5 linked regions of the Homo sapiens genome follow. The protein of the gene in region 2 interacts with the protein of the main gene of each other region in a pairwise test. Each region holds a gene or a part of one and is shown on either strand. Other genes may lie near its edges.

Region 1 (6,671 bases), on a different chromosome or scaffold from region 2:
CGGCTAATTTTTTTGTATATTTGTAGAGACGGGGTTTCACCATGTTGGCCAGGATGGTCTGATCTCTTGACCTCATGATCCACCTCCTGCCTCAGCCTCCCAAAATGCTGGACTTACAGGTGTGAACCACTACACTTGGCCTATTTTAACTTATATGTTGACTTTGTAGTTAGACCTCTTTGTATTTTTAGTGGTTACTCGAATAATTATAATGTACATTTTTGGTTACTCATCACCTATTTAGAGCTAATATATCGTTTCACATAGAATGCAAGAATCTTGCAAGTATATAGGACATCACCACCCTTCTTTATGCTATAGTTTTACAAAGATTTTCCCAGTTCAGAGAGTTGACAGCACTTACCAAACTTCACTGAGCGTATTCATGTCAAGGTTTTTATTGAAAGGCAAAGGGTACAGCACAGCAAGAGAAAGAGAGTTCAGGGAAGCACTAGAAAGCCAAGAGACACTCCATGTGCTGTCTCCCTTATTTGCACAGACCACGCCATGACTCTGGGTCTGTGTGAAGAATCTTGGTGTGGGAGAGCTCAAAGGAGGAACTCTCAGCAGGGGCCTTTTTATGTAATCAAGCAAGTCCTGTCAAATCATTTAGGCCAGTTGCAAGCCATCAGTAAGGAAGCTTACCAGGAGTAGCCAGTGGCATTGAGATCTTAAAAATACACAAGCCAGGCCGGGTGTGGTGGCTCACGCCTGTAATCCCAGCCCCTTGGGAGGCAGAGGTGGGCGGATCACCTGAGGTCAGGAGTGCGAGAACTTCCTGGCCAACACAGTGAAACCCTGTCTCTACTAAAAAAAAAAAAAAAAGTACAAAAATTAGCCAGGCGCGGTGGCTCACACCTGTAATCTCAGCACTTTGGGAGGCTGACGCGGGCGGATCACGAGGTCAAGAGATGGAGACCATCCTGGCCAACATGGTGAAACCCCATCTCTACTAAAAATACAAAAATTAGCTGGGCATGGTGGCACGTGCCTGTAGTCCCAGCTACTCGGGAGGCTGAGGCAGGAGAATCACTTGAACCGGGAGGTAGAGGTTGCAGTGACCCAAGATCACACCACTGCACTCCAGCCTGGGAGACAGAGCGAGACTCTTTCTGAAAAAACAAACAAAACAACAACAACAAAAACTTACACAAGCTGATGGCTGGGTTCAGTGGCTCACACCTGTAACCCTAGCACTTTGGTAGGCCAAGGTGGGTGGACTGCCTGAGCTCAGCAGTTCAAGACCAGCCTGGGCAACATGGTGAAACCCCATCTCTACTAAAAATACAAAAAATTAGCCAGGCTTGGTTGCATGCACCTGTTGTCCCAGCTACTCAGGAGGCTGAGACATGAGAATTGTTTGAACCCAGGGAAGCTGCAGTGAGCCAAGATCACACCACTTCACTCCAGCCCTCTGTCTCAAAAAACAGAAACAAAAACAAAACAAAAAACAAAAAACAACAACAACAAAAAACCATGCTGCCTTTATCTTGTTTTGGCCAAGAGTCAAAAAAATAGACCACCAAGAATTCCCAGAGATAAAAATAGAGCTTTTCTAGAGAAAAAGATAGAGCTTTTCCAGTCCAGATGTAAATAAATTCTATCTTCATGGTGGTTATTTGTATTATAGCTGCCTACATTGTAAACCCCCTCCTATAATACAATAGTATTATTTTGCTTTAAGCAATCAGCTGCACTTTAAAGAAATCGAAAGGAAAAAAAGTATTTTATATTTATCCAGATAGCTACCATTTCTAATGCTCTTCATTCTTCCTAAAATCAGAGTTCCCCTCTGGTATATTTTTCTTTTAACTTACATAACTTCCTTTTTAGTGTATCTTATAGTACAGGCCTGCTGGCAATGAATTAGCTTAATTTTATTTTACCTGAAAATGGCTTTATTTCATCTTGATTCTTGAAGAGTATTTTCATTGGATATAGAATTCTGGGTTGATTTTTTTTGTCTCTCTCTTTCAGCATGTAAAATGTCATTCTATTGCTTCCTGGTCTTTGTTGTTTCTGATGAGAAGCCAGCGGTCATTCAAATATTGATTCTCTGTATGTAGTACAATTTTTTTCAGCCTCCTTTCAAATCTTTGTTTTTTGTGATTTCTCTATGACTTTCCCCAATATGGTAGAAACCAGCTAGCTATATGTGGCTACTAAGTACATGAAATGTGGCTCTTCTGAATTGCGATATGTTATCTGTATAAAATACATACCAGATTATTTACTTAAAAACATACATACACACACATACAACATATACATACATACATACACAAACATATATGCAAGTTATCTCAATAATTTTATATTGATTTCATGTGGAAATAATATTTGGATCTACTGGGTCAAAGAAAATATATTATTAAAGTTAATTTATTTGCTTCTGTTTACTTTTTTAATGTAGCTGGTGGAAAATTTTATATTAGGTATGTGGCTTGCATTCTTGGTTCACACTATATTTCTATTGCATGTCACTGATCAATGATGTGTGTAGCTGTGACTTCCTTTGTATTTATCCTGCTTGAGATTCATCAAATGTTATAAATCAGTAAATTTATGTTTTTTACCAAATTTGATAAATTTTAGGCCATTATTTCCTTTTAATATAGTTTGTCCATTCTTTGTCCCCTCTCCTTCTAGAACTCTAATTTCATGTATATTAGACCTTTTAATATCATTTAATTGGTAACTGAGGGCCTTTTTTCTCCCTGTTTTTCAGATAGGATAATTTCTGTCAATCTACCTTCAACTGTCACTGACTTCTCCTTATGTTCATTTCCAAAAGTTAAGCCTATTCAGTAATTTTTTTTTTTTACAATTTCAGGTATCTTATTTTTCAGTTCTAAAACTTCATAGTCTAGAATTACTTTTTTCACAATCTCTATTTCTCTGCTTGCATTTCCTATTAGTTCATTCTTTACATGTATATTTTCCTTTAAGTCCTTGAGCACAGTTATAGTAGTTGCTTTAAAATCTTTGTGAATTCTAATATCTGGGTCATCTGGGTCATTGTCTCTATTGATTGTCTTCCTCTTGAGTTTTGGTTACACTTCCCCATTTCTTCATATGCCTACCTTATCCTGGAAATTGTACAGTACACAATGTGTAGAAACTCTGGATTTTGTTATGTTCCTTTGAAGAGTACTGACTTTTTTAAGCAGGTAGTTAATTTAGTTGGAGTCAAATTCCGAACTCTGCCACCTCTCTAGTGGGCAGCATCAAATATCTTTGTTCAGTTCTTATTTGGGCTACTTTGAGTCTGTCCTGTGCATGTATGGTTCAGGGGTCAGCTAGAGATTTGGGCAGAGTTTGTGCACAGAATCTGGGGCTTCCCTTCTCTGCCTCTCTCCTTTCCAAGATTCCTCCTCTCACTTTCCAACTGCTAAGTTTGCCTCAAACTCTATCTTGTGGTTATTCACACCAGTAAGACTGCAAGTTTGTGACTAAGTTTTGATTATTCTGTTGGTGCTGACTGTGGCCTACTCCCAGGCAAAAAGCTGTAAAAAACAGAAAATTTATCTGGTGACAATTCCTTCTTCCAAATATACACAGGTGTCTAATATCTGTCTGCTTTTGATTTCTCTCCAGTACCTTAAGGTTTCTTATATTTTATCCAGAGTGTAGTAGTTATCCACAGATGAATTAGTCTGAAAGGAGCTATTTCTCTATTACCAGAAGCTGGAAGCACATGTATCTTTTTGAAAGTATATTTTAAAAAGTAAAAAAAAAAAAAAAAAAAATGAGCCTGGCAAAGTCATTAAATATTAAGAAATGATAAAATGACCGACTACTAGAACTCCAGACCTGAAACACATCTTATCAATCATCTCATCCAGTTGTTCTCGTTAGCGTGTGGTATCTCCTCCCACCTCCCTAGAGTGAGTAGCAATGTGTGAGGGTGTTTCATTTTTCACAGTGACTAAGGGAGTCCTGCCGGCATTTAAAAAAAGAGATCAGGGTCAGGCACAGTGGCTCACGCCTGTAATCCCAGCACTTTGGGAGGCTGAGGCAGGCAGATCACGAGGTCAGGAGATCAAGACCATCCTGGGTAACACAGTGAAATGCCGTCTCTACTAAAAATACAAAAAAAAATTAGCCAGGCTTGGTGGCAGGCGCCTGTAGTCCCAGCTACTCAGGAGGCTGAGGCAGGAGAATGGCGTGAACCTGAGAGGCGGAGCTTGCAGTGAGCCGAGATCGCACCACTACACTCCAGCTTGGGCAACAGAGCAAGACTCTGTCTCAAAAAAAAAAAAAAAAAAAAAAAAAGAGCGATCAAGGCTGCTAATCATCTGGAAATGGATGAGAGAGTGCTGCATAAGGAAAGACAACTCCACTCAAAATGCTTATAATGTTCTCACTTAGAAACACTTGTTGTCTAAGCTGTATTTTTAAAATGCAAGATGAGAATCTGGGTTGTGGCAGGTGGCTTTATAAGAAGATTATAAGAAATGTGAAGTTTGTTTTAGGTTTCCAGCAATAGAAACTGACTTTGGCTCATTTACACAAGAGACCAGGTAGCTCCAGGGAAACTGATAGTCACAGAAGTAGGCTTGGAAAATAAAACAGAAACTAGGGCAGCAACATTCCGGACCACAGCCAGGATCACACTAGGAAACCAGACTTGTGAGAATACTGTTGTCATGGAAAAGTAGATGGTACAGCCTCACCAGCACAAGACAGCTACTGCTTTTGCTGTGCCACTCCTCCTTCCCCTACAAACTCAATGTTACTGATGTTGCCACAAATTACCAGACTGTACTCGATATCAGAGGCCCCCAAGCCTTTTGGCACCAGGGACAGGTTTCGTGGAAGACAGTTCTTCCACAGACAGGAGGGTTGGGGGAATGGTCTCAGGATAAAACTGTTCCATCTCAGATCACAGGCATTAGATTCTCATAAGGAGCACACAACCTGGGCCCCTCACGTGCGCAGTTCACAATAGGGTTCATGTTCCTATGAAATCTAATGCCGCTGCCGATCTGACAGGCGGCAGAGCTCAGGTGGTAATGCTCGCTCACCTGCTGTTCACTTCCTGCTGTACCGCCTGGTTCCTAATAGACCAGGAGCTGGTACCGGTCTGCAAAACTGGGGGTTGGAGACCTTTGTTCTCTTCCTGTTTCCTCGTAGCTCTAGCTCCTGACTGAAAGTCTGAAGTAGGTCAAGCTTGGGTCACAAGCCTGTACCTTATCTATAATTAAAGCTAGAAAAGTAAATATCTGGTTTTTTTTGTTTGTTTGTTTTTGAGACAGAGTCTTGCTCTGTCGCCCAGGCTGGAGTGCAGGGGCGCAATCTCGGCTCACTGCAAGCTCCGCCTCCCGGGTTCACACCATTCTCCTGCCTCAGCCTCCCGAGTAGCTGGGACTACAGGCGCCCGCCACCGCGCCCGGCTAATTTTTTGTATTTTTTAGTAGAGACGGGGTTTCGCCATGTTAGCCAGGATGGTCTCGATCTCCTGATCTCGTGAGCCACCCGCCTCGGCCTCCCAAAGTGCTGGGATTACAGGCGTGAGCCACCGTGCCCGGCCTTTCTTTTTTTTTTTTTTTTTTGAGATGGAGTCTTGCTCTGTCGCCCAGGCTGGAGTGCAGTGGCCAGTCTGGGCTCACTGCAACCTCTGCCTCCCAGGTTCAAGTGATTCTCCTGCCTCAGCCTCCTGAGTAGCTGGGATTATAGGCACGTGCCACAATGCCCTGCTACTTTCTGTATTTTTGGTAAACATATTCTGCCTGGCAGTTGGTTGAAAGAATTATCATCAGTAGAAAGGAATGTCTGGGTCATGATAACGGGTTGTGGAGACCTAGGTTTTGTCAGGCAGATGAAACCTCCAAGTAGCAGGCTTTAGAGAGAATAGACTGTAAATGTTTCTTATCAGATTTAAGGTTTGTGTAGATATTAATGCTGGAGGGTACAATGAGGCTTGTCCAACCCCTACTTCCTGTCACGGCCTGAACCAGTCTTTCAGGTTAAATTTCAAGGGCCAAGGAGGAAGTCCATTCAGACAGCTGCAGGGGGCCTTCTAATTTTATTTTTGGCTTCCACCCCTATGCCTCAGAATGTAATAATATTTGGAAACAAGATCTTTAAAGAGGTAATTAAGTTAAAATGAGGCCTTTAGGCTGGATCCTAATCTAATACCGGCATGTGCTTCTAAGAAGGGGAGATCAGGACACGGACACGCTCATGCGCAGGAGAGGCCATGTGGCAGGAGGCAGCGAGAAGGCAGCCATCAAGCAGCCAAGGAGGCCTCAGGAGAAGCCAGACTTGCCCACACCTTGATCTTGGACTTTTGGCCACCAGAACTGCAAGAACACACATTTCCATGGTTGAGGCCACCTCGTCTCTGGTATTTTGCTATGGTGCCCTGGCACACTAATACAGGCTCCGTGTTGCTGTTAACAGGACACTCACAGCAAACCCAACTTCCGTCTTTACCACCAATCCCGTTCCCCTAGGCCTTAGAATACTTCCAGGAAAAAAAAAAAAAAAGCATTCTTTTTCTTTTAAAATTTCATTCGCTTTTTAAAAAGTATACAAATTAAGCATAATCAGAGACTAAAATTAAACAAATTAAACTTCAGAAAAAAATGTCTAAATTGAAAACAAAAACACAATGTAAATCATACTAAATCCTATTACTCAAGACAACTTTTGTTCCTCTTTTAGAA
Region 2 (3,500 bases):
CCACCCAAGGTCCTTAAGGAGCTCACAGAGAGCAAAAGACTTGCCCATATTCACACAGGAGCACAGGACAGCCAATGAAGGTGAGCAGCTACTTGTTCCACATCTGAGCCAGAATGAATATGCATAAAATCAGCTGCCTCAGAACCTGAACAATCAAGACCTGAGAGGAAATGATATAAGGATAATGATATCATTATGTTCTAAGTTTAGAGAAAAAAAGGAGGTCTCAAACAGATGGGAAAAACTCTCCTGTGACGACACAGCTCTAGGCTTTTCTTTTCTCCTCTCAAAGCCATAAAAATAGCTGTAGAAACAACTGGCCATTTGAATATTTAAAATATTTCCTACAAACAGGTACAGTCACAAAACAGCAGCCAATGCATTGGGGGGAGACTCCTGTAATTACACTTCTGTCTTATGATCATAGACTTTGAGCCAAATGCCTAGGTTCAAATCCCAGCTCCATCAATCACTAGTTAGAAAATGTTGAGAAAATTACTAGATATAATTTTACCATTTGCAAAGTAAGGGACAAAAATAATGTCTGGCTCATTGGATTACAGTGAGCATTACATTTGTAAATCTAGGTAAACCATTGATAACTAATGGGCACTTAGAAAGCACTCAACACTTTTTGGCTATGATAATCACTATATCTGGATATCCGTTCTATTTCTGTTCCAGCCCTCCACAATGTAAGTCCTACAAGGGACTTGTCTTGTCTGTTTCATTCCTTAGTACATCCTCAGTATCTAGAATAACATCTGGCACCTTATAGGCCATCAATATATATTAGAGGGCTTATTTGACAAGTGAATAAGCCATGATTATGTAGCAAACTGGAAACAGAGCTTCAAAATATGTTGTTTTTGCATGGCAGAATTTGATTCTGAAGAACAGTTCAAGGGCAAAAAGGAGGAGGTGCAGGGTGTCAAAATAAGTCAAATATATTGTGCCGCAAAGTTGGGACCCCACTAACGTGCAAATGCTCCTCAGAATGTTAAACAATTCCTACCTGCAGCAACAATGAGAAATTGTGGGACCCTTATATGACTCCTATTAAACCTTGTGATTCTCTGCATTCATCATACACTTTGGCCAAGCTTTGAAGTACAATCCACAGTCATTTCTTTTCTTTTCTTGAGACAAGGTCTCGCTCTGTTGCCCAGGCTGGAGTGCAGTGGCACGATCATGGATCACTGTAGCCTTAACCCACTGGGCTCAGGCATTCCTCCTGCTTCAGCCTCCCAAGTGGCTGGGACTACAGGCACACACCACCACACCTGGTTAATTTTTTATTTTTTGTAGAGATGAGTTCTTGCTACGTTGCCCAGGCTGGTCTTGAATTCCTGGCCTCAAGCAATCCTCTGTCTAGGCCTCCCAAAGTGTTGAGATTACAGGTGTGAGCCACTGCCCCCAGCCTCAGAATTATGTTTATTTAAACAAATAACTATGAGGCATTTACCTTTAAGGATCCCAATTCCAGTGTTTAAAAGCATCATAGGAGGTAGAGGTAGTTGATAAGCAAGAAAAAAATTCAAGCAGGCATCATTTTGCGGTATGATGTCTAGTGGAGAAATGCATACTCAATTACTTTTAGAGTAAATACTCATAATACTAATCAATAACTCTGAGAAGCAAAATCAAGACAAAGCTGTCTTTACCCATATGTAACTAATGAGGCATGTGACTCTGAGCAGGTCACTCAGCTGCTGTAGCTCCGATGCCCTCATCTATGAAATGAGAAGTTTGGCCTGGATGATGCCTGTGGTCCCTTTCTGGCCTATCCATTCTGTCATTCCCTGCCCAATGTCAAGACAGTAGCTGTCTTCAGTCGGGGCTAGTTCCGTCACACGCATTTAGAGCCAGAAGCAGCATGGCAAATCATCATTTTAAAGCTGAGGAAACCACTAGCCTGCAAGATGACATGACTCAGGCAGTCATGCCACCAAGATAGGAACGGATATCGGTCACCATGGCAGCCAAAATTGCTGGGTCCTGTCCAACCAGCAAGTACAGAGGAACTTGAGGGAAACATGGATTTAGGGCAAATCAAGCTGTGGTTTGTGGGCCTATCTCCTTTGCCAACAATACTTGGGAGTAGCAGAGTTGGGGGTAGCTGATGCCAGGGAAATAAGGACAGTTTAGGGAGTCTATGAGCGATTTTGGAAACAGACGAGATCAGGAAACATGGGTTGGAGCTCTACGTGAATCTCGGCTCCTTCCTGGCATCTGTTGGTAGAGTTACCAGCTATCAATCTACTGCCCACCTCAGCAAACGTGGGCACCCTGAGTGTGAAACTTGGGTTTGCTGTCCCAATTTGCTCTACTAATTTATTTCCATGATGCAGGCAACACAGGAAGCCCCAGCTCAGCCGTGTGGATTCTCAAGTACAGTAGGTCCTTGAATGTTCAACGTCCTTTTATTATAATGTTGACGGGGGGGGGGGAAGCAGATTCTCAGTGGGGCCTCTGTCTATGTAGGGTTCACATGTTCTCCTTATGTCTGTGTGGGTTTTCTCCAGATACTCGAGTTTACTTCCATGTCCCAAAGATGTGCAATCGGCATGTCTACATAGTCCCTCTGGAGTGAGTAAGAGTGTGTGTATGAGTGTGTCCTACAATGAGTTGGTGCCCCATCCAGGATTGGGTCCTGCTTTGTGCCCTGAGCTGCCAGGACAGGCTCCAGCCACCCTTGATCTGAACTGGAATAAGCACGTTAGAAAATGAATGAGTACAAATTATTGTAAAATACAAATTCATAAAGTATATGCTAATCATACAAACACATGAAAATCAATGATGCAGTATGCAAGTATTCAGCAAGCCGCTGTAATTGTTACTATTTGCTTTTGAACTGTGAGTTGGGAGGAGGTGCTCCTTACAATTTTTACTTTGCAAACATTTATCCCTTGATTTAACACATCACTACTATGACCATCACTCACTGATTCACTAAAAATGGGGTAATTATACGGTTTTCATTAATCTTTAATATATGCATAACTCATATTTGTTTCAATATTTAATATCAGAAGTATGTTGGGTCTTTATTTAGAAGTGTGATAATGTTTTTGTGACCAGAAATATGTCATAGGAACTTAACTCTTGTTTATATCAATCAGCTTCTGGTAAAATTGATTTTCATATATGTTGTTTCACTTAAAGTCAGTTTCCAAGAACTATACTGACAATGTTAAGTGAGGACTTACTGTATTTCATTACATAGGCTGGCAGTGCTACAGGACTCTATATTATCTTTAACCCTGAAAAGAGCAGGGCCTCTTGTTTTTTCAGTTTTAAAAATCTCAACTTTTCAGCATTGTTGAGGAGCTCTGGCTGACATTAAAGAGCAGAGAAGTTAGAGGAAATCATATTGAGTCCCTTGGTTAATTTCCCCTGAAGTTCTTTATCAGTTTCCCCACCACTTCCTGCCCACCTAATTCCAAATCCTATATACTTAGAGCCAAAGTGAACATAACAGTTCCGCCAATTAAAAC
Region 3 (6,270 bases), on a different chromosome or scaffold from region 2:
GTAACTATTTTGATATTTTGTACAATTTATCAAGGTTTTCTTTTTTTTACAGTTTCTAAATTTTGAATCATATTTAGGAATGCCCTCTCATGCCAAAGTCTATCATGGCTTCTTCTAGTACTTTCACAAGGATTCAGAGCTTGAAAGATTCAACCCCAAGGTCAGAGACCTCTTGGAACCAAATTTCGTATCTAAGGTGTAGGCAATAGAAGTGGCAGCTGGCTCACTGGTTACTGGCTGGGATAATTCCATTATCTTTGGAGACTTATTAGAATAGTCTGACTCTATAATAGTATTGAATGGGACTCAAAGATTAATGCCACTCGCAGGTGCCTGCAGCATGGTTACAGAGCCTGGATGGCCATAGTACAGTAAGAATTTGCACTGAGTGAGATGCAGGTGGTGTTTCTGAAATGGAAAAGTAGCCAAATCAGAAATTTATTAGTAGGAAACACAAAAGGAATCCAAGGGATGTTCATCTGTAAACCTGAGAGAAGGTATTTTAAAACTGTCGCTGTTCACATTGGCAGGTGACTACTCACTCTAATAGCTCCTTCCTGCCTCTGGTGATACTAATGGACAGGGCAAAGTTCCCCAGCATACCCCATTACAGCCTGCAGCCACAGGGAGTTAGCGAGGGCTACACCCCTTTGCCTGGACATGACTAATCTCTTATAAATATCTTATTGATTTTGGTAGGCTGCTAATTATTTTTCCTGGAAAAAAAGTAATTTAAATAGGATGTGACATTGATAATGACATAGTTTGATTCAAAACACATTTTTAAAAATTTGATGAATACACACAAAGAGTTGTTAGTCAAACATCTATTAAACTTAGTCAAACATCTATTAAACTTAGTCAAACATCTATTAAACACAATTTCCAAAGCCGAATTCTAATGTTGTTTATAGCTCTGGATTGAAATATTCAGAGAATTGAATGTTCTTCTGGAGGTATGCAAATATGTTCTATTATAGGAACAGAAAGTTAAATGCATAGCAGTTGGAAACATCACCTTAATTTGTTCCTTCTAAAACCAATCAGACCCTGAAAAGCATTATATCATATACTCCAAGAGAGTGAGATGAATATTTGAAACCAGAGATAAACTTAATGCCACACATTAAAATAGCACTTTTCAAAAACAGTGAGATTATCTCCTTTGCTCCTCATCCTCACCCAGTGGGGTAGATGGGACACCAAAAGGAGGAAACTAAGTAATAATCAACTTGCCCAGGTGGCTACAGAGATAGTTTTTGGAAAAGCTACAATACAACCTAGAATTCCTGATTTTCAATTCTGATAAGTCATTTGACAGTAGCCAAAAGTTAATAAGAAAATAGTTTTTAACATGACTTACATGGGCCTTTCATTTCATGGGAAATTAAAACCATGGTGAATCTAAAGATTTTGTCCCCAAGCCATGCTGAGACTTACGGGTTATCATACTATTGGTTGATAGGTCTGCTTTTCCTTCTATGGCTAAGACAACTAGCACTCACCAGATTATTTTAGTAACTGGAAGAGGAAGAGGGGAACACAAGTGCCATACATGACCTCGTGCGACTCCACAAACTCTTTTTAAGCTTCTTGGAGAAATAAACAAGGTTTGTTAGTTGCAGAGGTAAAATGTGTCATAATCACCAAATTGATTCCTGTAGACATCTTCCGCTTGAGATGTATGCAAAGAATTTTTGTGAGGTACAAATTAGGTCAAATGTGTCCCGTGTTTTTTGTTTTGTTTTGTTTTTTTAAAAAGCAAAATTTTAAGGACTGACACAAGGGACATACAAAGGTTTGAACATCAAATTTTAATCTTGAAACCTTTTATCCAGTCCTCAAATTATTAACATGAAAAGGAGTGATAAATCGCAATTTTATCATTACCATATCACTGTGTAACAAGCCCTTGTTACAAAATCTCCCTCTACTGTCTGCAAAAAACCAATAGAAAACCCATACATTATATTACCTAATGATCTATTAACAGATGAAATTTTAACCAACTTTATACCAGGAAACTATGAACAGAGGTACTTCAATCACATAGCTTAAAATATGGAGAAAAGACAGGTAAAAAAATTATCTTAACCTGTAGTAGTCTTTTTTCTTTTTAAAATTTTTATAAAATACACTAATTTCCCAAAATAAAGAATATTATGACACATTGGTGTCAACTTACACAGATGAAAGCTGATGCCAGCTTTTTCCTAACTAAAGTTCATTTCACCAAACCTTTATATATTACATGAATATCCAAGTAAAGTATTTTTTTTTTAAATTCAACACACAGGAACATAATATACATTGTTTTTTTTTAAAAAAAAGGTTAATTTAGGAATGATTTCATCTTCAACCACATAAAGTATCTTTTTAAGACCATGAAACCTCTTGTCATTGCAAGACTTTTCAGTTCATGTTTCTATTTCCCAGTTTTAATTCTTAAAGGAAAAAAAAAAAGATGAAAGGGTTTATTATGTATTTCCCATGAGAAAACTGTGGTAAGGATCTTATTCATTACCAGGCTGTCTTCCCTCCTTTTGTTTTCCGGACTACCCAGATCCATGACTGCGTGGCACCGTAATGAAATCGGTGGGAGAGGCCAATGACATCAAGGAATGGATATAAAAAGACAGGCTCTTCTGGATCCTGCCACAATTGTAAGGTGTGGGCAAATTCACTCCCACCAAGCCTTCCAGAGCTCCACAGTCACAGGAGTAGTCTCCTGGTTAACTCATCCTTGATGTCTGTCTGCTGGGAGGACATAAAAGACCACTTTCACTAATGACTTGTGTAGTGGCTAATGCATGCCTTAGCCAGAGAGGGAGCGAGTGCACTGAAGAGACCTTGGTCAGTAGTGGCTTTGGGGTAGAGAAGAGAACACTGTTTATTTTTACACCTCCTGAATTGGTCAATTCTGAGTACAAACTCATCTTAACAGGAAATCGCAATGAAATATACACACCATGCACAGTCTATATTACTGTGGGAATCCAGTAATACATGCAAGACGTGGGGAAAGAATCACAATGGATGAATATGAACTTTTCACAGTGTTTCTTATAGCCTTTGACTTAACACGAGTGCATCACTTACCACCACTATCTCACAAATGTTTTACTTGTGTCCTGGGCATGCAGGTCAGTTGGGGTAAAATGTGAAATGACGCTTCATAGCCATTCTCAGACAGTGACTACAACTTCAATTTCCCCTACTTTCCAACCAAACAATTGAGCTGCTTCTGCTATAAAACTAAATATATTTCTAAATACATTTTGTTCAAGGGTTGTGCTGTATTCTTTCTCATTGTTTCAGTCACTTCATTCTAGGAAAATTAAAAACCCACACAATTAAATTGAGGACTAGGTCTTCAGGGTGATTCCTACCAAACTAGAAAGAGAGGGAATCACTAACTTCTCTTCTCTCAAGTTTCTGTCTCTCTACCCCAGGCCCTAATTGATACTGATTCATTTGTATGTTTGGTTTCCCAAAGAAGAAAACCAAATTAGAGAACTGGGATTTCTATCTTAAAGAAGCAAAACATAACCCCAAAATATAATGGTAGCAGGGAGGAGGAGAGGGGAAAATGCATTCACTCTATGTCAAAACGAATCTCTTGCTCTCAACAGGAGATAATCCAGCTTCTCCTTACCTATCATTTCATAAATTAATAATTTCTTAAAATCATAATCCAAAGAACGTATCTATTATACGAAAAGTTCAAGTTTAAAAAAGCAAATAAATTAGTTAAGCCTTGTAAACAATTGTCCATTTTAGTCATATATCTTAAAAAAAAAAAAAAGTTTCTCTGTGTAGTAAATCAGACAGTACAAGGCACACCTTATACATCCGAATCCAGACTAACAAAACCCACACAAACATCTTCTTCATTCTGCTCGCTGGGGTAACTGTGCTGGGGCATCAGAGTCACATACCAATCCTTTGCTCATCTCCTGACCATCTGGAAGTCCACAAATGTGCTCTTTCTGTTAAACTGCTTTGTGCTACTTTGTTGTGTGAAGTGATTTTAAGCTTCTTCAGTGTCAGTCTCCTCATATGTTTTCCACAAAGCTTCCTGGGAAAAGGCCAGTTTTCCCATTACGTTGTAATGTGCCTTTGAACCAGCCATCCTCTCGTTTTTTATGAACAAACACAATATCTCCTTCTTTAAGTTCAAGTTCTGCCTCACTCTGAGGAGGATAGGAAACCACCACCCTGTGCCTAGAAAAGAAAGAGATTTTGGTTAAGGCGATTCAAAGCAGTGATTTTAAAAAATGGTGTACTGTTAGTCTGCACGAACCTTCAACATAAATAGGAAATAACATTAATTCATTTATGATTGTAAAACAACTCAAAATACTGCTATTTTCTGTTTAGTAGAGACTTAGTACTAACAAAGACTGGATTTGGATATGTGTGTCAACCCACTACTGATGGCCCAGACTGGTTCATCTGAGTGACCTTAACAAGGACAGCCATCCTTGTTCCCTACCAGTGTTTGTATCTTGGCCATAAAGGAGAGTTTCATTTCATTTCCCGAGAGGGGTATCATTTCTATCCCTCCCTCTTCTCCAAGGAAACAGGAGTGAATTTATTTGATTGGTGAGACTGGGAGAAGTAGCTGAGCAGGGGGGGTTCAGTCCTCTCTGAACCGCCTGCCCACAGGCTAAGGAGGCTCTGCTCCACCTCTATGTTGTAAGCACACAGAGGTCAGGAAGGTGAGTCTGGAAGTCTGTCTCTGTGTCCCTACGTCCCTTACACTGGTGTTTGACATGGGCGAGGCAGCAATTCTGAGGAAGGTAATCTGCCCCACATACCCAGATTATCCCTTGGGAAGGTAGTCCCAAGGTCCAGACATGGAGGGGAGGGCTATGGCCACAAGTTCAATCCAACATTACCAGTAACGAGGTTGACATTCTCATCTCTATTATTCTGACATTTGGGTCTGTTTCTCCTTGGCTCAGAATTTGGAGTTAGTGGGAAAGGTGTCATTATCGCTTAAAAATGGCAGAAGCTTAGTTGGTTTAATATTATCTGTGCCCCTGCCTCCATGCTCCTTAGCCTTCCTGTGCAGAATTACAGCTTGTAGGAAACGAGAGGGAGGTGACTTGTTTTACACTCTATATCCTTTTATCTTTCTCTATTTTTCCAGCATTATTTGCATTACTCCTCTTCTCAACAAAAGGGGGGAAAAGAATGGTGGTGTATGGTAGCCAACCTCCAAGATGGCCCTAGTGATCCTTGCTTCCTGGTATTCACACTCTTGTGTAGTCTCCTCCTATGATGCACAGGATGACCTGTGTGGCCAATAAAATGTTGCAGAAATGACAGTGGGTGATTTCTGAGGCTAGATCATAAAAGGCATTATGGCTTCCACTTTACTTTCTCTTGGATCGGTCACTCAGGAAAACTGGCTGCCATGTTGTGAGGACACTCAACATCTCTATGGAGAGGAAACACATGGTAAGGCACTGAGGCCTCTTTCCAAAAGCCTAAACTAACCAGAAAAAGTGATGTGAATAAGCCATCTTAGAAGGGGATCCTCCAGCCCCAGTTGAGCATCAGCTCAGGCTGATGTCTTGACTACAATCTCAAGAAATACTCTAAGCCAGAACCAACCAGATGAGCTGTTCCATAATTATGTGACCCACAGAAAGTGTGAAATAATACATGCTTATTATTGTTTTAAGCCACTGACTTTTGGGCGTAACTGGTTACATGGCAACAGATATCTAATAAATACATCTTTCACTGTTTGATGCTAAGTAATGAGTAGTCAGTCATAAAGTTGATTTTGGGTTTCTACTTTCATTTGGTTCTCAAAGTCAGAAAATGAGTGTATAGCCTCGTGGGACCCACTCCTGACTGAAAGTGAAAAATATTATGGCTTCAAAATGATAGGCAGAACAAATTCTATACAACTGTCCCCAAACTTCTGAAACCTATTACAGCCTGCCCCTTTCACCAATTCCCATTCCATATAAACCAAAATCCATTTAAGAAAGACCACAGCAAGAGTCCCAGACTATTACACTAAAAAAACACATCTCTGCAAAAGGTAAGTGGCTGCTTGAACAACCTGAGCTCCTTTGGCACAGGGACCAAATTACTACCCAAGATCTGAAGCAAAAGCACAGCACAGAAGTTGGCTTATCATATCTGAGAAAGGTTCAGCTAATTCAAACATGAATATTCATAGACCACAAGGCTGGGGTTTGATCAAGCATGGAATGAGGAAGGAAGCATGACACAGCGGGAGAAACACTG
Region 4 (6,329 bases), on a different chromosome or scaffold from region 2:
CATCCTGGAGATGCCTGCATGGACCCCTCATCCACAGTCATCTCCTTGAGTTTCACAGCACCCCATGGGGGAAAGGGTAGTTTTGGCAGGGGTTTTCTGTTCCCCTTAGACAGGTGGGGGAATTAAGACCGAGCCTTCGGTTGGTAATGGAGCAGGAATGGGAGCCTAGGACTCCTGACCCCCAGCCCTGGAGTTGGCTCCACAATGGCTTTTCTCAGGGCCCAGTGACTTTGGGGGTGCGGTGGCTTCCTGCTCCACCACCTGAACCCCTGGGAGCTACTCCAGGGGGGTCACTCACAGGCTGTTCTATGATGATGGAGTTCGAGGGGTGCCTGAAACCTTTTTCTTGCTCCTGCAGCCGTGTGGCCAGATCCTGCTTCTCTCGTCCCCAGCGTCGAGCTGAGTCCTCTAACTGCAGACACAGAGAGGGACAATTGGAGGACCATGGGCAGCAGGGCTAATCCCTGATGGCCAGGACAACCAGGGCCTGAGCCTGCTGTCCAGGCAGAAAGCAAAGCTCTGGGCCATGTGGGCTTGACACCTTCCCGAGACCTCAGGGGTGGCGGGGTGAGGGTGAGGGGGCCAAACAGTCAGGCAGCCTGACCAAGACACAGATGGACATTTCAACAACATACTGAGCTCTGATCCTGAGTCCACACTGATCCCTGATTCTGGTCATAGACAGAGCCTGACCCTGGTCACACAATGAACCCTGACCCTGGATATACACTGAACCCTAACCCTGGTCATACACAGAACCCTAACCCTGGTCATACACAGAACCCTAACCTCGTTGTACACGGAACCCTGACCCTGGTTGCACACTGAACGCTGACTCTGGTCACACACTGAATCCTAACCCTGGCTGCACACTGAACCCTGACCCTGGTTGTATACTGAACCCTAACCCTGGTCGCACACTGAACCCTGACCCTGGTTGTACACTGAACCCTGACCCTGGTCACACACTGAACCCTAACCCTGGTCACACACTGAACCCTGACCCTGGATGTACACTGAACCCTGACCCTGGTCACACACTGAACCCTAACCCTGGTTGTACACTGAGCCCTGACCCTGATTGTACACTGAACCCTGACCCTGGTCACACACTGAACCCTAACCCTGGTTGTACACTGAACCCTGACCCTGGTTGCACATTGAACCCTAACCCTGGTAACACACTGAACTCTAACCCTGGTTGTACACTGAACCCTGACCCTGGTTACACACTGAACCCTAACCCTGGTTGTACACTGAGCCCTGACCCTGGTTGCACACTGAACCCCGACCCTGGCCACACACTAAGCCTTGATCCTGGTCATAGATTGAGCCTAGACTCTGCTCACACACTGAGCCCTGGTTATAGGCTGTGTGGTGAGCCTGATCCAGCCTCATCAACTCCTGCATCTCACCCACCTGGCTTTCCAGGGACAGGATCCGGCTCTGAGCGTGTTCCAGCTTGGCCAGGAGGTTGAACTTGTCTGAAGTACCAGAGAGGAGATCCTGTGGGCAAAGCACAAACTCACATTTGGCCCCAGCTGGAGGCTGTGGCAGTGTGAGCTTGGGAAACCATAAGGTATTGAGGAAGAAACCAGTCAGGCCTGAGTTCAGACTGAGCTCCCGAGGCAGAGCGTCAGACCTGGGCCGAACCCTCTTCTGGAAGTTCAGAACAGGGTCTGGCATGTGCTTTTTTCACAGCTGTTTCCCACACAGATTTTGAGAATACGAAGTTTTGACACAACATTTTTTTTAATGTAAAATGCATTAGGGAGCCCCCTATAATTAACGCACTGGGAGTCTTTGAGTGAAGTGAAGAACCTGTGAGGCAGTTGACCTCATCCCTCACACTTTACCTGGATGTCCATGAGTCAGGTGTGCTTTCAACAGAACTCACCTCCGGCGAGTCCTGGGATGGAGAGAAAACTCTCCTGTGCCCCTGCCCTGCCCAATATTCTGTGATTCCAAATGTTCTGCTTTGGGGTTTATGTAAAGCAAGGGGCCCCTGAAGCATCTTCAGAGGTGGAGCAGGGCCTGGGCATTTCTGGGCCCTGGGCCACCCACCTGTGCGGGCAGGGTCTCTGTGCACTCTGAGTGGCCTGGGCCATGCGTCTCTTGTAGCCTCTCTGTCAAGTCTCCTCCTGCTCCCAACTCCCCGGGGTCCACCTGGGATGGAAAAGGGCTCTCCAAGGCTGCACCAAGACCAGGGAATGCTCCAGAAGGGAGTTTTGAGAGGCCTGTGTAGGGTCCAGGTGGAGGCCAGCCAGGTGAAAAAGGGGTCAGGGTTCAGGGACCAAGGGTCAACAAGGGGCTTGCTTTCTCCTGGGATGCTAGATGAGGTTAAAGGTGAAGTGTTCGGGGACACACATTCCGCAGGAGAAAAAGACCAAGGCCTGAGAGCTGATTCCAGGAGCCCCCAGGCAGACTGGAGACCCTGGGAAGCTTAGCTCCTGGTCTTGATCTTCAACTTGGGTTGTACCATGGGTGATTTCTGGGCACCCAGTGACCGGCATAGGCAGGCCCAGGTCAAGGGCCTCTTACCGGCAGGGCCTGTTGCTGCAGAATGATGGGGGCCTGCTGGTGGCGGTTCTTATCCAGCTCCGTCCGCAGCTTCGCGTTTTCTGCCAGCAGCACCGAGTAAAGTTCAACCGGCAGGTTCTCTCCCATAGAACCCAAGGGAAGGCCAGAGGCTGAGAGCATAGGGAAGCCTAGAGACACGGCCACAGATGTTGGTGAGATGGGCTCTCCTGCTTCCCATGTCCCTGTCCTGATCTGCTCCAGCATTTTGCTTCAATCTGCCACCCCTCCCCTCTACTCCCAAGCCTTCAATGGCTCCCTACCACCAGTGGGATCAGGTGCACACAGGCTGTCCTTCTAGGCTCTTTAGAACCTGACCTCAACGTTCTCTCTAACTCCTCATTTGTCTTCAGTGTATTTCAGCTCCTCACCTCTCTCTCTTCCTCCCTTCTCTGATCCTGGAATTCTTCTCACTCCCTGGGCCTTTGATCTGGCTGTTTCCCCTCCCTAGGTTGCCTTCTCAGTCTCATCCAGACTCCTGGATGACCTCAGGCTTCCTGAAAGGCCAGCCCAGCTTTCATTGCATTCTAAAGGCTCCTAGAAACACCCTCCTGCCCCTGAGACCCTCAGCGGTGAAGGCTAAGCACAGGGCTGGGCACACAGGGGCCCTGGGTGAGGTTGCACAGGCAGGCTCAGGGAAATCCCTTGCTTTGGGCTGGCCTGATATGGTGTTACCTGGTCCTTTCTGCTTATCAGAGGCTGATTGGCAGTTTTAGGTGGCTTTTGGTTAATATCGATGGGGAAGAAAACCTCCAAATCATTTATTTATTTATTTATTTTGAGGCGGAGTCTCCCTCTGTCACCCAGGCCGGAGTACAGTGGCACAATCTTGGCTCACAGCAACCTCTGCCTCCTGGGCTCAAGTGATTCTCCTGCCTCAGCCTCCCAAGTAGCTGGGATTATAGGTGCCCGCCACCATGCCCAGCTAATTTTTGTATTTTTAGTAGAGATGGGGTTTCACCATGTTGGCCAGGCTGGTCTTGAACTCCTGACCTCAAGTGATCTGCCCTCCTCGGCCTCCCAAAGTGCTGGGATTACAGGCATGAACCATTGCGCCTGGCCCCAGATCATTGATTTAATCAAAGTATTTTTGTTTGTTTGCTTTGCAGAGGCAGAATCTTTGGCGGTATGGGGAAATAATTCGACGGATCCTGGGGCTAGGAGCTGGGAAGTGTTGCCCCAGGTGGCCCTTCTTCAGGGGAAGGCCCTCTCTGCTGTGCTAGTCTGCAGGGCCCTCCTCTGGAGGTCCACCCTCTTTCTAGCCTGGCTCACACTGCATCCCAATTGTGTTCTGAGGGGCTTCCAGGGAAGGAGGGAGCTCAGGGGATCTCTGGATGGGGCGCCTGAATGAGGAGGGGAGCAGGGCAATCCTGGGTCTCCCAGGCCCACAGACATAACTGAGTGCAGGGGACCTCTTCGCAGGTTCTCCTGAAGCTGAGAGGCTCCAGGAAGGCAGGGCCTCCAGGGGTGGAGCAGAAGCTGGGGAGCTGATCACATCAGGGTGTGGACCCACCCGTGTAGGGCTTTCCCTGCTGCCTGTTCAGAGGAGGGGGCTTGCTCCTGTCCTGCAGCCTGTCCTCCAGCACCCGCTCCATCTTCTCGATCACCTGGAGAGCAGAGCAGAGGCTGGGCTGGCCCAGGGGCTCCCTACTCTGCCATCATCAGTTGGCCTCGGGGGCAGCCCCTCTGCCACCTGCCTTCTCTTGGTGCCGCACAGTCTCCTCCAGCGCCTTCATCTTCTGCAGCTTGCCCTGGTACTGCTTCAGCAGAGCGGCCTGTGGCTGCTGGGCCTGATACAGAAGGAGCAGCTCCTTCTCTCGATCATTCTTCTGTGAGATGGGGGAGGAGAGAAGGGGAGAGAATGGGTGCCTGGGAGTCCACCTTGGCCCTGAGGGTCCACCTCGGCCCCTCTGCTGAATCCTCCACCAGGCTGGTCCCCCTTTCTTCCGTGCTTCCATTCCCTCTGTGCCTGTTCTCCCTTCTCCTCCCAGACTCTTCTCACCCCGATGCTCCCCCACCATAGCTCCCTCCCCTCTGCCCCCACAAGCCCCAGCTCACTCGAATCAGCTCATTCTGCAAATGCTGCACCCTGTCCCTCAGTTTCTTCATATCCAGCTCACTCAGCAGCAGTTTCTGCTTCATGGACACTGTTAGGTGGGTTGGGGAGCTGGCTCAGGGAGGAAGCCTCTCCCAGCTCAAATCAGCATGGTCAGTAGCAGGAAGGCAGATATCCCTTGGCCCGAGGGCTTGGGACGGGACTGGATTCTCTGTTTCCCATCCCTGAGAGGACCCAGCTGGGCAGGGACTGTGTGAGTGTCTGTGGGCGAGGGGCTCCTATTTGCCAGAGTCCAGCAGCATGCACATCTGGGAGAAGCTCCCAGCCACCCTATTGCACAACCTGGAGCCTGGGCCCAGGCAGAAGCCCGGGTGCCCTTGGTGGCCTGCACATCCTCACCCGTGTTCTGGGCCTCACTGGCTTTGCCCTGCCCCTCTTCCTCCTCCTGCTGGGCCAGGCGGCTCCTCAGTATGCGGTTCTCTCCTTCCAGGATGCTGGCCTGTCTCCGCAGAGACAGGATGTCCTCTGCCATCTTCTGCATGGCCCGCCGGTAGTTGTTCATCTCCTGTGGATCCCAGAGCCCAGAGCTGAGCCCACTGCCCCATAGCAACCCTGGTCCCACATCCACATCTACACTTGAAAGTCAGTGGGTCCCCCACAAGGCCAGTGAGCACCAGGAGCCCCAAGCCATGGCCCTAAGTCTTAGCAGCTCCCTGGAAGGGTGGTTATGACTTGATCCTCACCCATCCTGGCCATGTGAGGGCAGCCACACTAATGTTCTCTCCCCGGGGCCACATCACGTCCTGTGATACCAACTCAGGGGGAAACCCCAGGTGTGGACACAGGGGAGGAGGCCTATGGGCAATGGAGACTTGAGAAGATCCAGGGCCAGGTTTGCAGGGTCTGGCTCGATCATAGCTATTTCTTCACCTTTTCCCTCCTCCTTCCCCATCTTCTAACTCCTCTCATTCCTCACGTCACTGAGAACCCAGGGAAGAACCTCTCAGAAATCCCACTGGATGCCACTTGGAAGGTGACTGGGCATCAGCCCTCCAAACAGCTCAGTAGTCAGAGGACCCAAGGTCACCCTGGGAGACCCAGGTTAGAGCTTAGTGGAGGCTGGGATCCAGCTACAGGATGTGGGGTATGAGGTGGGGCTGGGGGCTGGAGTCAGCCATGAGGTCAGGAACAACAGCAATCCTAATGTCTGATGCTCATTGAGCATTCACTGTGTTCCAGGTCTTCTTCTAAGCTTTTTATGTGCCCTCCCTCAGTCCTCTCATCAGACCTGCGTGGATAGGTACTATTATCTCCGTTATACCAATGCGGAAACCAAGGCCCAGAGAGGTGAGTAACTTGCTCAGTTACAAGACTGATTAGTGATAGAGCCAGGGTCTGAAATCCAGGCCTGCAGGGACTTGAGCCTCTGTTCTGAAGAGCCGTGCAATTCTGCCATGAGGCCTCCATATGTGGACACTTCACAATACGCTGAGAAGTGATAAAAGCAGGCTACAAAAAGGAATGATCAGTGCAATCCCCAATCGAGAGAAAAAATCATGCCTGCCCATGTGCATGTATATATATATATATATGAAAATTAATAGGCTATATTTATATGCATTTGTTTTATAAGCAGAAATTCCCTACTGTTATTTATAAAGTTTCACAAAGGGAGTTTCTTAAATCTGAACAGCAC
Region 5 (6,671 bases), about 31 Mb from region 2:
CCTCTGAACACACAGCTCACTTAGTCAGTGTGGCCCAGTGAGAAGGTCAGATTCTGATTTATTCCAATAAGTGTTCTCTGGGTAATATGGGGGTGGGGGGGTTTAGAGTAATACAAATATCTTTGCCACATATATTACAAAGGACTTTAGTTTTTTGTTTTGTTTTGTTTTTCTTTAAAATTAATTGCTTCCCTCTTTTACAGCCCAGCCATCTAATCAGTCTCCGATGTCTTTAACATCTGATGCGTCATCCCCAAGATCATATGTTTCTCCAAGAATAAGCACACCTCAAACTAACACAGTCCCTATCAAACCTTTGATCAGTACTCCTCCTGTTTCATCACAGCCAAAGGTATGTCACCTTTGAGGGACATTCGGAAAAGAAACTACTTACTTTTGGAAAGTCAATAACATTTTAGAATCTGTTATAGAAAAAGCCCTCTGAGAATGAGGTGTAGTGGTGGAATGAATGACAGGTATGATAGTAGATGCAGCCTAGAATTTCTCAGTTCACTGAGGGATAGAGGGGGGCTTTGAATCTGTGCTACTTTAATAAACCATCTGAGTCTGTTCCCTAATGGTTTTGGGATTTGTCACATGGAGAGTGAGATAAAGAGGATATACTGAGTCTTAATATTTGTAGAATTTTCAAACTCCAAAAGACATGAATGAACATGTTTTCCAGTGACTTTTCCATATTTGTATTTCAAAAATGAGGCAGTTTCTGTGCTAAGAACTTAATGTATGTTTAGCTTTCACATCGTGAGAATCACTTGCTTTATTTAATAGATGAGAAAATCAAACTCTCAGTTAAGTTTTTGTGGTAGAGTCAGAATTTGAAACCTAGGTGTTTGTGAATACAGGGACCCATTTTACTAAGCTTATATTGCCTGTATTTGTCCCAGCAGAATCTTACATGGTTGGCTCCATAGGTGCAGTTAGAAAATTGCTGGTCTAAATGGTAAATGTAGGGGGAATTTCTTTTGAGTAGTTTTGAAACAGTGGGCTGTTTCAGACTTTTTAATGCCAAATAATTCTTTGTAAGATATTAAGCAGAAGCCCAAAAATAAAAATGCATTGAAATATAACTTGAAAGAGGTGGTTGGTCAGCTTTTAAGTCTTCCCGTTTGTTCATCCCTTCCCTACCTTGGCCATTGATCATTGCATGTTTTAGGGTCAATTTAGATTGATTTTTAAAATTCCAAGTTACAGTTGTTAGTTTATTATGCAGTTCCTTATCATTTGCCAGTATTTTAAGGAGGAAAGAATTAAAATGTGAGTTTTGGCAAAAGAGATGTTATTTTTGGAGCTTAGAACTTGTCTTCAGGGTGGCATTTTAAGAGTATAGTAAATAGTGGTTAAAAGTGAAATAAGTGGTAGTATTGGTTTTATAGTCACTTGTAAACTGAGCATTTCAACTCCTTTAAGAAGGCTGGGCGCGGTGGCTCACAGCTATAATTACAGCACTTAGGAGGCCAAGGCAGGAGGATTGAATTAGGCCCTGGGCAATATAGCAAGACCCCATCTCTACAAAAATAATTTGAAAATTTGCTGGGGGAGGCCGAGGCAGGCAGATCACTTGAGGCCTAGAGTTTGAAACAAGCCTGGCCAACAGGCAAAACCCGGTCTCTACTAAAAGTACAAAAATTATCTGGGTGTGCTGGCACAGACCTATAATCCCAGCTACTCGGGCGGCTGAGGCATGAGAATCACTTGACCTGGGAAGTGGAGGTGCAGTTGAGCCAAGATCACGGCACTGCACTCCAGCCTGGGCAAGAGAGTGAAACTCTGAAAAACTTTCTTGGGCATGGTGATGTGCACTACTCAGGAGGCTGAGGTAGGAGAATCACCTGCGCCTGGGAATTCAAGGTTGGAGTGAGCCAAGATCACGTCACTCTGCACTTGAGAGTAGGCAACCAGACTAAGACCCTGTCTGGAAAAAAAAAATCCTTTAAGCAGGTAGCTGTTCGTTTTTTGTGTTCCAAAAACTTCTTCAAGTTGTTTTTAAAATAATTGAACATTTGAGCTTTTATGTAGTGCTTATAAAATGTTCTTTATAAGACTTGACTAGAATTGATAGGTAATATTCAGAAGTTAAGCAGGACATTCCAGATTTGTTAGGGAGAATTATTAATCATATCCCCTCACCCCACCAAAAGAAAAACAGCAGTGAGGTGTGACTTAATCACAAAGGACTCCATCTGCCTTTGTGCCTCAATTTAGAGCTTATATTTTAAACTGCTTTTCTCTATGTGGCTTCTGAATATAATACATATCCTGATTGGCAATCATGGACTTCAGTCTACCTCTGTAGAGTAACATCTCTTTGAAAAACTCTCATGTTGAACTTTATATGGGCCATAACTCATTTTCTGATAGCCCAATCACATATTTCTCCATATCATTAAAATCTAAGCATCCATATGTGTATGATGTGGTAGCATACATAATTTACTTTTATTGATATAAAAGTAACAGTAAATCAGAAGAGATAATAATGTATTGGAAAGAAAACTGAGCTGTAAAGGAGAACTAGTTACTTTTTTTTTTTTTGAGACGGAGTCTCGTTCTGTCGCCCAGGCGGGAGTGCTGTGGCGCGATCTCCGCTCACTGCAAGCTCCGCCTTCCGGGTTCACGCCATTCTCCTGCCTCAGCCTCCCGAGTAGCTGGGACTACAGGCGCCCGCCACTGCGCCCGGCTAATTTTTTGTATTTTTAGTAGAGACGGGGTTTCACCGTGGTCTCGATCTCCTGACCTCGTGATCCGCCCGCCTCGGCCTCCCAAAGTGCTGGGATTACAGGCGTGAGCCACCGCGCCCAGCCCTAGTTTGATAGGGAAGTAATTTTATGACCTTGGGCCATTTTCACAAAGAAATGAGATCTAAGTTTCAGAACTTGACTGCCACATTTTACATGTTTCAAGACGATTACCTAGATTTTGGGGGGAGAGATGTGGATTAGATTTGGAGACCATCTCACCAGATTTTGACATTTCAGGTTAGTACTCCAGTAGTTAAGCAAGGACCAGTGTCACAGTCAGCCACACAGCAGCCTGTAACTGCTGACAAGCAGCAAGGTCATGAACCTGTCTCTCCTCGAAGTCTTCAGCGCTCAAGGTAGGTTGATATTGTATATTGAGACCACATTGTTTTATTTAATGATGGTACACTGCATTGTTTGAATATTATATCTGTAAAATAGAACTTAACCTTTAAACTCCATGAATACCCTAAAGTAGGCTTACATGTTGTAAAATTTACAAAGACAAACCTGTATACAAGAGGTAGGTTATTGTCTCTAGTAGTGAAGCCCGGGTTATTTTGAAGAAAGTGGCTCTTTAAAATTTTACACAGTGGAATATGACGGGGCTAAAGATTTGTGATACTTGTACCAGAAAGGCACACGATTTTACAATATTTGTTGGAATTACCTTACTTTTTAACCTCCTCATAGCAGTTTTGGTTTGAGTATATTGATGAAAGCCAAAGTCTGGTATCTAAAACTTGGGCCAATGTTTCCCAACTGGTATATGTCAGGCTTTCCCAATAGCTTAACTGTGACCCTATACGGATGGCTTTTTAGATAGTTCTATACTGCTGTATTGTGTTAGCACTTTTCTTTGTTCATTAACAACACAACTTTAAATGACATTTGTTGAATGAATGGTTTTCATTTGATTGATTTTCCTGTTTTTTATTTCATGCTATGAGGTAGCAAAATAATTCAACTGTTGTTTTTATTGTTGTTTTCTAAACAAGCATTTCAGAACTTACACCTCCAAATGAGAGTTGTTCCCTTCAAAATAATGACCTTGGGAAGCTGTCTACTTACTCCAGCAATGTTGCCATTGCTCTGAACATTTTTGGGAAATTCTTCTTTTAAATTGTTTTTAGAGGCTGCAGTATTATTTTAAATATCCTCAGTGATGAAAACTCTTCATCCTTTGGGAGATTTAGTTTTTGGAAATAACTGAAATTCATTCAGAGCCAAGTCTGGTGAAGCAGGTAGGAGATCAACTTGGGTGATTAAATTTTTTGGTTCTCACCACCATATCCCCAACCCTGGCCCAAACCATTCAGTTTTAAAAGAAGATAAAGAATCTCAGAGTGTTATTTTTTTGGTTTTGTTTTGCCACTGTGCTTGTTCAGTGCTATCCAATAAAATGTCTGTATTTTGCTTCACATTATTTCACCCTCTGATTCAGCAGTTCTGACGTTGAACAAAGGCAATATATATTTTCCCCTTATCTAGATGTGTATGAGCAGTCTTCAGATGTGCATCTACAGCTGTTAAAATGTGACTTTTTTTAGTTATATTATTAGTGTTTGTGGTACACAAAGTTAACAGGTTCTGCTCTCAGATTTGGAGAGTAGTTTACATTTGACTCTGACAGTAGTGTTAAAAGGGTTTTTTCCCCCTAAAGTGTTTTGAGGAATCATATACTTTGGATTATTAATTCTCTTTATTTGACATTAAAATAACAAATTTTTCTTAGGAATTTGGATATCTTTAAGTTAATAAAAGGTATTAACATGCAGTTTCTAGGATAAGGATACCCAGAAACTACTTTTAAACATACTACACATTCAATTCTGTTTTCTAGTAGCCAGAGAAGTCCATCACCTGGTCCCAATCATACTTCTAATAGTAGTAATGCATCAAATGCAACAGTTGTACCACAGAATTCTTCTGCCCGATCCACGTGTTCATTAACGCCTGCACTAGCAGCACACTTCAGTGAAAATCTCATAAAACACGTTCAAGGATGGCCTGCAGATCATGCAGAGAAGCAGGTATGTTATGTACAGCCTAGATTTTACCTTTGGATGATTAGCAAAACAGAATTTAATCAACTTCTAGAGAATCTAATGTGACCACTGAATTCAAGCAATATTTAAAATAATGAATCTCTAACTTTGTAGTCATTTAAAAAATATTTGATATATAAGATAACTTTTCTGGTTTTACAAAATATTTTAACATAATTATAGGCACTGTTGTCAAGTACTCAGCAGTTAGCTCAGTGCTTAATGCCTTATATTTATTTTCTCTACTTCTTAAAACAGCTAAGCAGTGTAGATAGAGTTGAAGTCCTTAAGACCAAATAGTGCATAAGACCTTGATCCCAGGGTCACCCAGTTAACAGTGATGTGGCTCAAAGCCAGTGTACTTTTTCCACTCAGCTTCTCTGATAGTTTCAGATTCCATTAGCACTGTTAATCTACTGGCCAAGCGCAGTGGCTCATACCTGTAATCCCAACACTTTGGGAGGCCAAGGCAGGTGGATCACTTGAGGCCAGCCAGGAGTTCGAGACCAGTCTGACCAACATGGTGAAACCCCATCTCTAACCACAAGTATAAAAATTAGCCAGGCATGGTGGCATGCACCTGTAATTACAGCTACTCGGGAGCCTGAGGCACCAGAATTACGTGAACCCAGGAGGCAGAAGTTGCAGTGAGCCGAGATTGCACCACTGTACTCCAGCCTGGGTGACACAGTGAGACTCTGTCTCAAAAAAACAAAAAAAAACCCCACTTAATTTTCTATGACTCTCTCACTAGACTAGCAACTGGAAGTTAGGAAACATTTTTGCTTTGGGATGAGAGACCTTAGGACATTCCAGTTACTGCCATTTGCCTCTTGCTTTTTATCAGATAACTGACCATCTGGGGTGTTCGAAAGTTTACAGAGAATATGTTGTGTGTCTTACGATAGAGGAGTATAGTGAGGCTCTTGAATCAATATCTAATACCTGAACTTGCAGAAATGACAATCTCTTTGGCTGACCCAGCATCTTTTATTAACCACAAATTATGAGTCCTTTCTTAGTGCTGTATTAGCTTCAGGTTGGAAATCCTATTTTCTCCAACTTAGAAGAGAAATATTAAAATAAGTACCTTCCACCCTTAGAGACAGTTTCTTAAAACAAATTAATTTTCCCCATTAGGTTCACCAGCATTTTTGTGTATTGAAGGGAAAAGGATTATTCTCTAATCCTAGTATAAAATTGTACTCAGAAATTTAATGTTTTATTTTGTGTATGTTAATGTTTATATTTTATGTTTTCTTCATTTCTTTAATTACAGGCATCAAGATTACGCGAAGAAGCGCATAACATGGGAACTATTCACATGTCCGAAATTTGTACTGAATTAAAAAATTTAAGATCTTTAGTCCGAGTATGTGAAATTCAAGCAACTTTGCGAGAGCAAAGGTAAGTCTTTCACTGAAATATATTTTTATGTTTCTCAGGATTATGATTCTTAAATCGAACTAAAGAATGTAAATCACATTTTATTTATGAAATGTAAAGTTCTCTTCGATACATTGATCACATTCTATCACTGCATTTTCATAAGTTAATATTTCTCGTGAAGGATAAAGCCTGTCGATTTTCTCTTAACCCATGATGAATGCTTCATTAGACTTTTCTCATAACTCCATAAGCTGCAATAATATATTACTGAAAAAATGAAATATTGACCACAACTAATTATAAATGTCCTCTCTTGCTGAGGGTGTTTCCATTGAAATTTCAGATTATTTGTCCTTGCATCATCAATAGATCCCTTGAAAAGTATAGAAAGAATTTGTCTAGCAAGTTTAGTGTATCTGCTGTCTTAGTATTTTTCACCTGAACTCTTGTCTTGTATTTCTTAATCTAGTGTTTC

Evidence for each region.
Region 1: the proteins of CCDC6 (region 2) and ZNF354C interact in a two-hybrid assay, tested with the Homo sapiens proteins (one large-scale study listed by BioGRID).
Region 3: the proteins of CCDC6 (region 2) and SH3RF1 interact in a two-hybrid assay, tested with the Homo sapiens proteins (one large-scale study listed by BioGRID).
Region 4: the proteins of CCDC6 (region 2) and CCDC33 interact in a two-hybrid assay, tested with the Homo sapiens proteins (one large-scale study listed by BioGRID).
Region 5: the proteins of CCDC6 (region 2) and WAC interact in a two-hybrid assay, tested with the Homo sapiens proteins (one large-scale study listed by BioGRID).

What each region holds. Positions count from the first base shown.
Region 1 is NC_000005.10:179,068,446-179,075,116, reverse strand, and holds part of ZNF354C (zinc finger protein 354C), read right to left. Parts: intron 1-6,671. UniProt on the Homo sapiens protein: Transcriptional repressor that inhibits endothelial angiogenic sprouting. Suppresses osteogenic effects of RUNX2 and may be involved in osteoblastic differentiation.
Region 2 is NC_000010.11:59,816,057-59,819,556, forward strand, and holds part of CCDC6 (coiled-coil domain-containing protein 6), read right to left. Parts: intron 1-3,500.
Region 3 is NC_000004.12:169,092,464-169,098,733, forward strand, and holds the end of SH3RF1 (E3 ubiquitin-protein ligase SH3RF1), read right to left. Parts: intron 4,225-6,270; coding exon 4,056-4,224; 3' UTR 1,796-4,055; downstream 1-1,795. UniProt on the Homo sapiens protein: Has E3 ubiquitin-protein ligase activity. In the absence of an external substrate, it can catalyze self-ubiquitination. Stimulates ubiquitination of potassium channel KCNJ1, enhancing it's dynamin-dependent and clathrin-independent endocytosis.
Region 4 is NC_000015.10:74,329,058-74,335,386, reverse strand, and holds part of CCDC33 (coiled-coil domain-containing protein 33), read right to left. Parts: intron 5,199-6,329; coding exon 5,033-5,198; intron 4,725-5,032; coding exon 4,636-4,724; intron 4,407-4,635; coding exon 4,275-4,406; intron 4,185-4,274; coding exon 4,091-4,184; intron 2,709-4,090; coding exon 2,542-2,708; intron 2,167-2,541; coding exon of another isoform or gene 2,065-2,166; intron 1,507-2,064; coding exon 1,420-1,506; intron 413-1,419; coding exon 299-412; coding exon of another isoform or gene 215-298; exon of another isoform or gene 1-214.
Region 5 is NC_000010.11:28,611,571-28,618,241, forward strand, and holds part of WAC (WW domain-containing adapter protein with coiled-coil), read left to right. Parts: intron 1-203; coding exon 204-352; intron 353-2,996; coding exon 2,997-3,115; intron 3,116-4,602; coding exon 4,603-4,792; intron 4,793-6,086; coding exon 6,087-6,214; intron 6,215-6,671.